Regions from separate parts of the Homo sapiens genome. Here region 1 is linked to region 2. The links come from fine-mapping of genetic effects on gene expression. A gene starts in region 2. The other region holds a variant in brackets. All regions are shown on one strand. Distances are between the middles of the regions.

Region 1 (2,894 bases), 22 kb after region 2:
GGGGCCCTTCAGGGTCTGTGCCATCATCTCTCCCCAGTCCAGAGACAAGGGAAAATGGCTAAGCAGCAGGCCTCAGAGATCTTATTTCTAAGATCACCAGGCCAAACCCAATAGCACTGCCAGGTTCTACGTCTTTATTTTAATACCACCAGGGCTGTCCTTTGAGGGCCCAACAAGGGCAGTTTCTTTCCTCAGGGACATGATAACCGTGGTACTTGAGGAGAATGCAACTTGCACGTGGAAACTGGACTGGAATGGGAGACAGTTCTCTAACACCCTGGATGAACGGGGGGCATGGGAAGGCTGCGGTCATCTCAAGTGCAGATGCCAGGGATATGGTTCAGGGGGCAGAGGCTGATAAACGGGGAAGAACTTTGAAGGAAACTTAAAGAGAACCGAATCAAGACGCTGGGACAGAACGGAGCGCACAAGCCAGGCCGGCCCAGCCCCCTCCTACTTCATCCTCGGGGACCAGAATGCAACCCGGCACCAGTCCGGTCCCACGAGCTTGGATGGCTCGGCGCACACGGGCCTTAAGAAGCCCCTATGCGGGCCTCTGGGCCCCGGTTCGGTGGGAGCGAGGCCCAGGAATGGGAGAGGCCAAGGCAGGGCTGGGGGGAGGGGAGGGGGCGTCCTCACCGGGAGCGGGGAAGCCGGGCGGACGGGCCCGAAGGCGGGCGTCTCCGGCCTCAAGCTTCCCGGCTCATCTCTCCGGCGACGGCGGCGGCCCCGCCACTCCTGCTGTCTTTAGGCGCAGCCGTCTCAATTCAGGATTCCAACGCTTCTGGGCCGCGTGCCGCGCCGCCGAGCACCCCGCCGCGCCGCCTCTGGCTCTGCTTCAGCTTCAGCTTCCACCTCCACCTCCACCTCCGCCACCGCCGCCACCAGCGCCACCGCCGCCGCCGCCACTCCTCCCCCCCTCCTCCTTCCCCTCCCGCGAGCCCCGGGCCCACCGGCAGCGGTGGCGCACGATTAGTACGTCACACCCGGCGAAGAGCGCCGGCGCGGCCACCAAGCGCGCGGTCCCGTCTACCCGAGGACGCCGGCGCCACGGGACTGGCCAGCCCAGAGCGCTACGCGAGGCTGCGCCTGCGCACATCCGCCGCCCGGCCGCGCGTGGCGGCCCCGCCACTTTCCCTTTTGCGCCGCGCTCTGTCTTCTCCGCGCTCGCGGGCCTGACCCTAGCGGCATCCCCAGTACCTTGATCCGGCGGGGGGCGCGCCACAGGAGAGCCAGGAGGGCGGGAGATCCCCGTACGAGGACCGGGCTGAGGCGAGGCAGTGGGGGAAATGGAGCCGGGGTATCATTCATTCTATTTTATTTAACTTTAAGCAGGGCTTGATCAGAAAGAAGAGCTCAGAGGAGTGAGGCAACACCAACACCAGGGCGTACGATACACCCGAGGCTCCTCCGACACCAGTTCCAGCCCGGAAGGGCTTGGAATGGCCTGCCACGCCGGGGCAATGGAGCGCGTGAAAGCCAAACCTTGGGACCCGAAGAGTAATTTGACTGCGAAGGCACCGTCATCGTCGGGCACCCCCTGTAGACGGGCGCATAATAGCTACATCTCTGGAGATAGTGATGGAAACTGGGGTCCGATAGATGGAGAGAAGGACGTAGGATAAGGCTTCTTGTGGGGTGAAGAGGCAGAGGGCACCTGGAGAGAGGTGTGGCATGGAGAACCAGGGGTTTTCCCTAGCAGAGGGCGGCTTCGTGGACTTCGGCCAACCGGCGGGTGCTTCCCTCGAGCGGCCGCTAGATGGTGGTGCTGTTCTGGATGCTTCCAGTGGGCCCCGACCAGGTCTG[G/A]ACAATGCCTGGCGCCCGTCCCCCGCCCCTCATCTACACACACGCAAGAATTCGGAGCTCCATGGGGAACAGAAGCAAGATATCCGTAAAATCAAAGTCTAGGGGGTGGGAATGAAAAGGGAAAAGTGAGGAACGGGGAGCCAAACCCAGGAAGACGCCTCTGTTCCTGCACATTCCCTCTCCTTTATATACTCAGCTCTTGGCTGTCTCCAGTATGTACCCACCCTGGTCTTCCAAGCTGGGAGCCACTTTTTATAACACAATCACAGTTTCACAAACCCCAGGAAGGTTCCATGTGGAGAGAGGTTAAGTTTCGCCCTTGCCCGGGGAATTATGACACTCAGAATATCCCCTTGGTGTAAATGGAAGACACCTGAGAAAAGAGAGAAAGTAGATTCGCAGTGAAGCACAGCCATCCAGATGCCCTGTTTCCCCCTGCCTTCTCCAGCTCCACCGTTCCTCTGCCTCCTGTAAGGACCCGGCATTCTGCACTTCACTCCTCAGACCCGCCTCTGTTTAGGTTTCCAACCTCCCTCCTAGCGGTAGCTCCCTGCACTGCTACCCCCGGTCAGAGACGTCCTGCTTTCGGCTGCCCACACGGCTCTCACCTGCGCTATAGCAGCTGTTGTAGGCCCGGTCCGGGTGGGAGGGCATACTTCTTATACATCGGAATAGAGTCTCCTGCCTTCCTTGGCCTTCTCGAGACACCACCTGACCCATGGTGAAAGTCACGTCTTGAAACAGGACCTGGCAGGGAAGGGAGATGTTGAAGAAAACAGGATGGCCTGGCTCAGTTCTGGGAGGCCTCAGGAGCGCTAACGAGGGAAGAAAGAAGGGTCTGCTGGGTTTGGTATGAATAGAGGGGTCAGGAACCCTCAGTAGGGGGCCAAAGAGGCCCTCTGTGAAGCTCAGAGTGTGGCTGGGGTTACCTGGCTATACAGCAGATAAACTCCAGCATCCTGGATTCGGACACCATATCCTTGGGCCTGTAGGCCTCTCCCACGCCTAAGAGCTGGTTGCCACATCACCTCTGTCACATCGGAGTCATCTGGAGGTGAGAGTGTGTCGGTCAGGACTTCTTGGCACTC
Region 2 (2,894 bases):
CGGTTAATTTTTGTGTTTTTAGTAGAGACAGGGTTTCACCATGTTGGCCAGGCTGGTCTCGAACTCCTGACCTCAGATGATCCACCTGCCTCAGCCTCCTTAAAGTGCTGGGATTATAAGCTCGAGCTACCGCACCGGGCCCCAGACTGTTACTTTCCAAAACAGCTTTTCTCCGATGCCTACCACCCCCCACATCCAATCTTCCATTCCCTATAAATTAACACCCAAACTTGGCTTGACCTCCACGGCTCTCCATTGCTTCCCCATATAAAGCTGAGAAATGCCCAAGAGCTCTCTGATCCTTTATTTCCCTTCTCTGGGCCAATGGGTGCCCCATTTCACATGTCTTCTCTCTCCAAAGACAAGTCTTCATACCATTTTTTTTTTCTTATTTTAATTTTGAGACGGAGTTTCACTCTTGTTGCCCAGGCTGGAGTGCAATGGCACGATCTTGGCTCACTGTAACCTCTGTCTCCCGGGTTTAAGCGATTCTCCTGCCTCAGCCTCCCGAGTAGCTGGGATTACAGGCGCCTGCCACAACGCCCGGCTAATTTTTTGTATTTTTAGTAGAGGCGGGGTTTCGCCCTATTGGCCAGGCTGGTCTCGAACGCCTGACCTCAGGTGATCCACCCGCTTCGGCCTCCCAAAGTGCTGGGATTACAGGCGTGAGCCACCGTGCCCGCCCCATACCACTCTTTCTTGAACACTCTGACTGTCCCTGGCCCCTACTCAGGGACTAAACCTTACCCTTTCAAGGCTTGCTTTTATGCCCTGGCCATCCACAACTTCTCTAGCCTTGAAGCCTTCCCCTCAAGGAACTTGGTCTAGTGGGAGTCTGACTCTCACGGGTCATGAATGCGGCTAAAACAAAGTGCCCCACGAGCTCAAGAGAGGTACCATGAACTGACAGGGGCAGACTGACGCTCCCCAAACGGTCTGACGGTGACCCTTGTGGAGCTGTCTCGCAATCAGAAAAAGGAAGGGAGGCAAATTATTCCGAAATCAGACTATGAGCAAACCTGGAGGCTGGAAAGAAAGCAATCAGGGTGGCGGAGCCTTTGGGGGTGCAATGAAGGCCCGATTCATCAGGGGCTTTGAATTAAGTTTAACCCTGCTAGCGATCTAATAAAGGTTGGCATGATTTGACTTAATTTTTATTTTGTTTTATAAAAGTTGACTCTTCGTTTTTCATTGTCGCTACAGCACAAACTCCACAAAGAAGTAATTCCACCCGGTGACTTCCCCACTGGCACTAATATGGTGTCCTCCCTCTAAGGAGCCCGAGACACTTCCGCCCTTCTCAGAAGTGACTTCCGTCCAGCTCGGCATGGCGGCAGTCACTGCCGTCACTTAGTCGCCGATCAAGGCTTGGACTAAGGGCCCACGGTCACTCGAGTAGGACTTGGATCGGATGCTGAATAAAACTCACCGTGAAGCAAGTCCCACTGAACGAAAAGTTGGTCGTAGCATTTCTCAGGTAAAAGAATCGGCACGAGCAGCCGTTTAAGCGGTCCGTCCGCCTCGGCCGCCATATTGCAAAGCTAGCTTCCGCCAGTCTCTCCAGACCGCCATTGACTTTCGTTGCGCGTGCGCGCTGCGGACACTCCGCCTCCCGTTCTTTTCCCGCGGCGAAGCTGGCCCGCCCCGTGCCCCGCTCTTTCTGACGCTACCCACCCTCACTCTAGTGGCGTAAAATAAGTCTCAGTCAGGGACCACGTTTTGGACGCGCTGTTGGAATTGTAAAGCTTGCCGAAGCTGCACGCCTGCGCGGTTAGACCTCCCACGCCTTTGTTGACGCTTCCAGTTTGGAAGCCAGATTTACACCCCTGCCTTTCTCCGCTCCTCCTGCTGGGCGCCATCTTGTCTTCTCCTAGCACACTTTGTATTGTTCGAAGTTGAGAGAGAAGGAGCCGGAGTCTCCGAGGTGGCGTTGGGTGGGGGCGCTACTAGCTCCCGTTCTCTCAGCGTCTCTAGAGGGAAGGGCGCCGGTGGGAGCAGGAGAGTCTGCACCGGGCAGGCCTCCTTAGGTGCCGGGTTGCGCGCAGGGCCCTGTGCTTGTCTCGCCTCCGGTTGGCTCAGGCCTCGGAGCATGAGTGCGCCGGCAACTGCTGGGCCCGGGACAGTGAAGCAGAGGAGGAGGTGGGGGAGGCGAGCCCAGGTCGGGGAAGGGCAGCACCTGAATCACCCTTGGGGCCCAGACCCCCAAGAGTCTCCGGGGAGCCGAGGCCTGGCGAGGCAGTCCCGGGATTCGCCCCCTCCCCGCTGGCCCGAGGGCGCACCACGTGCTGGGCAGAGACTTCGGCGAGGCCGAGTGGACCCTGCAGCGCTGCTTGGGAAAGGGCACCTTGGACTACCTGGTGGGGGCGTTGTGCTTCGTTACCGACCGCCGGGACGCCAACCCACGGTGCCCACCCGTGCGTCATTCCGCTGTGGATCAGCCCTTTGGCGGCCCCCCTCCAAAGTCTACAAGGTCACACGGATGTCTGCAGGCAGAGGTGGGGCTGCTGGGGCCCTGCCAGGTGAGGGCTGCCCTTGTGGGGCAGTCTCTGGGCCTTGGAGGCCGGAAGCCTCCTGGGGCTCCTACGGCTGGGGGGTGCTGCTCATCCTGGCTCCCAGGGATTGCGCCGTAGCCAGCTGTAATGGGTGGGACTGGCGCTCACTGCTGGTGCAGGCTGTGGCCATCTGGGAGGTCCTTTCTGGAATCTGGACCTTGGCTGTCCTGAGAGTGACACTCCTCATCTCAAGTACTGGGGGCATGAAGTTAGGCTTGGCAGGTGGCCCCGTGTGGGGGGCATGCTGTTCCCAGGAGCCCCCAGTGGAGGTCAGAGTACCCACTGCTCCTTCTTGATTCAACCCCTTGTAGGTGGGATAGGAGCATGCCAGGTGCTGCGAGG

Evidence for each region. PIP is the estimated chance that this variant, and not a neighbour inherited with it, causes the effect.
Region 1: its variant is fine-mapped to the expression of MPDU1-AS1 in whole blood (INTERVAL, PIP above 0.99).

Annotation. Positions count from the first base shown.
Region 1 is chr17:7,560,009-7,562,902 of GRCh38, reverse strand. TNFSF12-TNFSF13 (TNFSF12-TNFSF13 readthrough) reads right to left here. Exons shown (of 11, transcript NM_172089.4): 9 at 2,736-2,854; 10 at 2,415-2,553; 11 at 1,302-2,179. The coding sequence ends at 2,070. It overlaps TNFSF13 (TNF superfamily member 13), which reads right to left. Exons shown (of 6, transcript NM_003808.4): 4 at 2,736-2,854; 5 at 2,415-2,553; 6 at 1,302-2,179. The coding sequence ends at 2,070. SENP3 (SUMO specific peptidase 3) reads right to left here and starts at 984. Exons shown (of 11, transcript NM_015670.6): 1 at 640-984. It overlaps SENP3-EIF4A1 (SENP3-EIF4A1 readthrough (NMD candidate)), which reads right to left and starts at 911. Exons shown (of 22, transcript NR_037926.1): 1 at 640-911. RefSeq lists enhancers at 1-214, 1,481-1,730 and a silencer at 841-920. The variant G/A (reference allele first, on the strand shown) is at 1,807.
Region 2 is chr17:7,582,501-7,585,394 of GRCh38, reverse strand. MPDU1-AS1 (MPDU1 antisense RNA 1) reads left to right here and starts at 1,303. Exons shown (of 2, transcript NR_136402.2): 1 at 1,303-1,477. It overlaps MPDU1 (mannose-P-dolichol utilization defect 1), which reads right to left and starts at 1,543. Exons shown (of 7, transcript NM_004870.4): 1 at 1,430-1,543. The coding sequence starts at 1,532. RefSeq lists enhancers at 98-970, 1,205-1,734, 971-1,845, 1,845-1,894, 1,846-2,719.